2 linked regions of the Homo sapiens genome follow. The protein of the gene in region 1 interacts with the protein of each later gene in a pairwise test. Each region holds a gene or a part of one and is shown in the gene's direction. Other genes may lie near its edges. The genes, in order: RBAK and EIF1AD.

Region 1 (4,028 bases):
GCCTTCCTTATCCCTGCTAGTATTCCAGGCTGAAATGTACTTTGTTATTTATGTAGCATTCTTTTGAGTAATGCATGCATGGTATATCTTATTCCATCCTTTTACTTATAACGTATTTGCATCTTTATATCTAAAGTATTATTTCTTGTAGGCAGCAAGATTTGGATCTTGCTTGTTTTCATCAGTCTATTTCTGCCTCATAATTGGGGATGTATAGACTGTTTACATGTAATGTAATTATTGATAAAACTAGTTAGGTTATAGTCCATTGCCTTTGCTTTCTTTTAGTCTCATCTTCTTTGTTTCTTTTTAAAATGTCTTTGTTTGTCTTCCTTCCTCTTGATTAATTGATAATTTTTTATGATTCTACTTTATATCTTTTGTTGAGTTTTTAGCTATCACACTGTTTTGTTATTTTAGTGAGTTAGAATTTATAGTATGCAACTTTAATTATCATAGTTTATTCTTAAGTGATATACCATTTTTCTTAGAGTAAGAGAAGCTTACAATAGGATACTTTCATTTCTCTCCTCTTGGTCTTTACACCGTTGTTCATTTTATTTTTACAGGTGGTATCAGTGCCACACAGAATCTATTACGTTGTTGTTAATTAAACAGTTATCTTTGATTGATTGATTGATTGATTGATTGATTGATTTTGAGTTGGAGTCTCACTCTGTCCCCCAGGCTGGAGTGCAGGGGTGCGATCTTGGCTCACTGCAACCTCTGCCTCCCAGGTTCAAGTGATTCTCCTGCCTCAGCCTCCCGGGTAGCTGGGATTACAGACACCCACCACCACACCCGGCTAATTTTGGTATTTTTAGTAGAGATGAGGTTTCACCATGTTGGCCAGGCTGGTCTCAAACTCCTGACCTCAGGTGACCTGTCTGCCTCAGCCTCCCAAAGTGCTGGGATTACAGGTGTAAGCCACCACACCCAGCCCAGTTATCTTTTAAAAAGATTTAAGTAATGAGAGAAAATACACAGTTACCATTTCTGGTACTCTTCATTCCTTTGTGTAAATCTAAATTTTTATTTGCTGTCATTTTACTTCTGCCTCAAGGACTTTCTTTAACATTTCTTCTAGTTGATGAATTCTTGTACGTCTGCAAATGTCTTCATTGTGTCTTAGCTTTTAAAGGTGTTTCTGCTGGATATTTCTCCACAGTGCTTTAAATATGTTTCTCTATTGTCTTCCTGCTTACATTTTTTTCTAAGAGAAATCTGATCTCATATTCATCTTTGTTCCCCTGTATATAACATGTCTTTTTTTCTTTCCCCCCTTATGTTGTAAACTTTTTATCACTAGTTTTGGGTAATTTGATTGCAATATGTCATGGTATCATTTTTTTCATGTTTCTGTTTTGGGGATCACTGAACTTCTTGGATCTTGGGTTTATGGTGTCATCACTTTGGGAACATTTTTATCATTATTTCTTCACATACCCACCACCTCCCCTCCATTGATTCTTGTTGCCTGTATATTAGGCCACTTGAAATTTTCCCACAACACACTGTTGCTCTTTATTTGCTTTTAATTCTTTTTTCTCTGTTTCATTTTATGTAACTTCTGTTGCTGTCTTTATATTCACTAATCTCTTTTTTCCACGATGCTGTTAATCTTGTCCAGTATAATTTTCATCTCAGATATTGTAGTTTCTATCTGTAGAAGGTTAGCGTGGGTCTTTTTTACATCTTGCCTGTCTCAATTTTTTTGAACATGTGGAATAGAATGATGAACTCTCTCAGTGCTCTGTGTGGGTTGTAAACTCTGTCAATTCTGGGCCAGTTTTGATGGACTGATTCTTTTCTTCCTTATGGTTGTAATTTCCTGCCCATTTTCCCATCTCGCAACTCTTACACCTCACATCTGTCTCTGTTCTTCTTCCCTGCTCTGTGGCCTGGAAACACTCAAGGCAGAAGTTGATTGGTTCACCTTGTTTATTTCCCATCACTCATAGATAACTCTACTGCCTGATAATCAGTGCCTTGAAAACCATTGCTTCAGCCCGGGCGTGGTGGCTCATACCTGTAATCACAGCACTTTGGGAGGCCAAGGAGGGCAGATCACAAGGTCAGGAGTTTGAGACCAGCCTGGCCAACATAGTGAAACCCCTTCTATACTAAAAATACAAAAATTAGCCAGGCATGCTGGTACACGCCTGTAATCCCAGCTACTTGGGAGACTGAGGCAGGAGAATCGCTGGAACCCGGGAGACGGAGGTTGCAGTGAGCCAAGATTGTGCCATTGCACTCCAGCCTAGAAGACAAGAGTGAGACTTTGCCTCAAAAAAAAAAAAAAAAACCATTGCTTCATATATGTTCTCCGTTTTATTTTTCTTTCTGTTTTTGATTTTGTTGTTGCTGCTGTTCTTTGTTATGTGCCATTTCAGGTTGGAGGGTATATCCAGTACCTGTTAGTTTATCACAACTGAGGGCAGAAGTCCTCATGTCTCTCTCTATATATATTTTTTCTAATATATATATTTTTTTCTTTGTAGAGACAGGGTCTTGCTATGTTGCCAAGGCTGGTCTCAAACTCCTGGCCTCAAGCAGTCCTTCTGCCTCAGTTTCCTGAGTGCTGGGATTACAGGCATGAGCCACTGCACCTGGCCTGGATCCAGTTTTGTCCATGTCCAAATGGTGTTTTTCCCTGAGCTGTTTTTGATTTTCTTCCACCTCATATGAACTGTAGTGTCAGCTTATCTAGTTCCAGGAAAAAGCTTTTTGGTATTTTTACTGGGGTTGCATATTTATAAAGTAATTTAGGGTAACTGACTTACCCTAGGTAGGGTAAGTTGACCTTAATAATACAACTAATTTTTTTTGTTTGTTTGTTTTTTAGTAGAGATGGGGGTTTCACCATGTTGACCAGGCTGGTCTTGAACTCCTGACCTCGGGTGATCTGCCCGCCTCGGCCTCCCAAAGTGTTGAGATTACAGGCGTGAGCCACCGTGCCCGAGCACTTTTACTTTTTCTTAGTTATATTCCTCTAATTGTTTTATCTTCTCTAATTGTAGATAATGAGCATTTTATTAATACCTTGTTCTTGATCTTAGTAGGAAGGTATGTAGTTTTTCCCTGTTAAGTAAAATCCTGACTTTTGGACCGAGAAGACTGAGGCATAAATGTGTGTGTGTGTGTGTGTGTGTGTGTGTGTGTGCGTGCGTGTATATACACACAAACTGTATATATATGTGCTTGTGTGTAATTGAAATACATATGTCACATATATATCATACATACTATTGCATATTAGGGTGCAATATTTATATTTGTGTATATACATGTTATTGATGTTAATGAAGTATCCATCAGTTTCTATTTTCTTTAGTTTGTTTTTTTAAATCAGCTTTTTCTGTCAAGCTTTTTCAGGTATCTTCACGGATACAAGATTTTTCTTCTTTGCTGTGTTATAGTGGCTTATCATATTAATAGATTTCCAAATATTAAACTAGTCTATATTATTGGAATAAGTCCCATTTGGCTATTGTATATTATGTTTTTAATCTGGTACTGGATTTTGTTTGATTATGTTTCATTTTGGGTTTTTGTATTGATGTAAGTGGTATTGGCATGTAATTTTATGTTATTTATTGGTTGATCAGTCTTCTAACCCCTACTACCTCCTTGCCTTCTGGACTAACTTAACCCAGAAGGTTATTACTCTCTCTCGGTGATTTTATCAGCTCCTGTGGCCTGACTGTGGATAAGCTTGGATGTTCTGCTTTAGTTTCTCAGCCCACAGCCTAGCGGCCCTGCCTCTGCTATCTCTTGGGATCTACATGGTCCTAGCTGTATCACTGGATTTGAACCCCTTGTTGATATGTTCTTTATAAATAATAGGATAATGCAGCCTGCTTACTGGGCACTTCCTTTTTCTAAACTACAAGTTTGGGCAGGGCGTGCTGGCTCAAGCCTGTAATCCCAACACTTTGGGAGGCCAAGGCAGGTGGATTGCTGGAGCCCAGGAGTTTTGCATTTTTCTTTTTTTTTTTTTTTTTTTTTGAGACAAGGTCTCACTCTGT
Region 2 (3,113 bases), on another chromosome or scaffold:
TTAAAGCTGAATGACTTTAAGCACGTTATTTAATTCCTTCAAACTCTATTTTCTTATATGTAAAATGGGAGCTTTGTGAGGATTAAAGAAGTGGATGGCTTGTAAAATTGCTTAGTGCAGTATCTGTTATGTGATATGGGTCCATTAAGTGTTAGTTGGTGGTCGTAGAATCATTATTTCTAACTAAAACAAATGGCTGTGGCACACGTTTGGGGAGTGGGGTCAGTCTTTAGCCTGTTTCTTTGGCCACGTTTCCCCACTGTTTGCTCTCCTGTGTCCCTTGTTTGAGTCTTTAAAGGGTGCTGTAGGGCCCTGACTGCTGGGCCGGATGGTCCTTTTTTTGGAACTCCTTGATTGTAGATATTATTTTCCCAGAAGGCGCTGGGCTAACCCTGCTCTCTTCCCTTCGTGCAGACAAACTCAACCAGAACTCCCAGCTGAGCCACAGTTATCAGGAGAGGAGTCCAGCTCAGAAGATGATTCTGACCTGTTTGTTAACACAAACCGCAGACAGTATCATGAGAGTGAGGAGGAGAGTGAAGAGGAGGAGGCAGCCTGAGACTCCAGGACCCAATTCTCCACTTGCTCAGGGACTGGCCCCTGGCTCTTCTGGGCTTGGACATTCCCAGGGTGCTCTGCACATCTTCACCCCTGCATGAGGACAAAGCAGGGCTCCTCTCTGAACTGATCTTTTGATTCAGAGAATTAAACCCCTGGTGGGTTGGTGACTTGTTCTGGTGTCTGAGTGGCTCTCTCGGGGGAGGGAGATTGTGATGAAGTGAAAAACTGCTCCCTATTTATTAGAGACCTTGTGGGTGGGTGGGCTGAATGGGGAGGAAATGGGAAATGGCTGGAGTCTTTCCCAGGTGGTTTGTTCTTTCTTATTGGGCACTTAGAAAGTGCCAGGCCGTGCTCTGGGCCTTCTTGCATGTGTTTAACAGCTGGGAGCACTCCTGCTTCCTTGCCTGCTTGCAGTTCATACCAATTTAAGCATTCAGGATGACAGCCCTAGGACCTAACACCCACCTGCCTCTAAGAGACGCTCAGGAGCCCATGGTGCCTCGTGCTGTTCTCCCCGCCTTTCTAGTCACCCTGTGTACGGGAGTGCTCACCTCCAGCTACTGTGTCCATCCCCACATACGACCTCATCTCTCCCACTCTGCACCATCTATCACTTCCAGAAGGTGGCTGGCAAATCTCTCTATCCTTAACTTTGTTTTGAATGGTCCATCCATCTCCTGACTTTATTTGAAACCTGATTATTCCCTGAGGACATTGATTGTCTTATAACCTTTTAAATAGAGGCTGCTTTTCCACCCTCACCCTTCATTCTTCTAACCAGCCCTGACATTCTCATGAGTAACCTTCTGCCTTCACTTCCCTCTTGTGTAGCATCAATTCCGTAGTCCACCCTACACCCCTCTGTCTCCCTCCATTCTGTTCCGCTAGTAAAACCCTAACCCTGGGTAAACCCAATCATTCACCTCTGTGCCCAAACCCAAGTCACCATCATTAGGTGAGAAAACAGCCAGCCTGGCCACCAGTTGTACCTTACGTTTATCATTACAAACCTCAGATGGACACTAAGCACTGCCCAGCAGATCTACTCTGGGATGTCTGTTTCAAAACTTCTGTCTTATCTATCAATTCCCCCTTGTGGTAGTTACCACAACACATGCCTCATTAAGAAACAGCAACCATCAGAGGGAATGCCTGCCTCCCTGTTACCAGCTCTGCAGATGTGCACATATCTTCCTGTCGTAAGCCAATGGGACTTAAACCTTACCTCTTGTGTTTTGGAGACTATCTTTTTTTTTTTTTTTTTTTTTTTGAGAGAGTGTCTCCCTGTGTTGCTCAGGCTGGAGTGCAGTGGTGTGATCTCGGCTCACTGTAACCTTCACCTACTGGGTTCAAGTAACTCTCCTGCCTCAGCCTCCCGAGTAGCTTGGACTACAGGCGTGCACCACCACACCTGGCTAACTTTTTGTATTTTTAGTAGAGACGGGGTTTTGCCATGTTGCCCGGGCTGGTCTCGAACTCCTGACCTTAAATGAGCCTCCTGCCTCAGCCTCCCAAACTGCTGGGATTACAGGCGTGTGCCACCATGCCTGGCTAATTTTTATATTTTCAGTAGAGACGAGGTTTTGCCATGTTGGCCAGGCTGGTCTCGAACTCCTGACCTCAAGTGGTCCACCCACCTTGGCCTCCTAGAGTGCTGGGATTACAGGTGTGAGCCACTGTGCCCGGCCTCTTTTGCTTTCTTAAAGACTTTGGTCGGGTATTTGTGTTGTTGAGTATTGTGTCTGGGTGTGGGTATTTGATTCTTTTTTTGTTTTGTGTTTTTGGCTGTCCTGTCTATTGGATGTGATATGTTATGGATGTGATGTGTTAGTGTCGAGCGTGCTGTAGAATCTCCCATTTCTGAAACAGGCGTGAAAACCTGTACTGATTCCCACGTCCTCCAGCTACCACTTCATTTGTCTGTTTCTCATTTACTTTCTCTTATAGCGTGGCTTTAAACATATATACATTTGTATATATGTATATATGAATATAATGTATAAAATGTATGTAGATGTATATACAAAAAATAAACGAGATGGGTTAAAGATATGTATGTGTGTGTATCTATCTTTAATTCATCTGAAGTTTGTTTTTTCTGAGAGGTAGCAAACTTTCCCTAAAGGGAAAGTCACTTGTCCCTGTACTATTTCTTGAAAGGTTCATTCTTTGCTCACTGGAAATATTTCTTTTTTTTTTTTTTTGAGACGGAGTCTCGCTCTGTTGCCCAGGCTGGAGTGCAGTGGCGCCATCTCGGCTCACTGCAAGCTCTGCCTCCCGGGTTCACGCCATTCTCCTGCCTCAGCCTCCTGAGTAGCTGGGACTACAGGCACCCACCACCACGCCCGGCTAATTTTTTGTATTTTTAGTAGAGATGGGGTTTCACCGTTGTTAGCCAGGATGGTCTCAGTCTCCTGACCTCGTGATCTGCCTGCCTTGGTCTCCCAAAGTGCTGGGATTACAGGCATGAGCCACCACGCCTGGCCAGAAATATCTTTTAAAACATAAATTCCTGCATATATATGGATCTTTTTTGGAATTTCTAATCTGTC

Evidence for each region.
Region 2: the proteins of RBAK (region 1) and EIF1AD interact in binary tests that used the Homo sapiens proteins (3 or more experiments, as listed by UniProt).

The regions. Positions count from the first base shown.
Region 1 is NC_000007.14:5,052,118-5,056,145, forward strand, and holds part of RBAK (RB-associated KRAB zinc finger protein), read left to right. Parts: intron 1-4,028. UniProt on the Homo sapiens protein: May repress E2F-dependent transcription. May promote AR-dependent transcription.
Region 2 is NC_000011.10:65,996,045-65,999,157, reverse strand, and holds the end of EIF1AD (probable RNA-binding protein EIF1AD), read left to right. Parts: intron 1-414; coding exon 415-559; 3' UTR 560-2,613; downstream 2,614-3,113.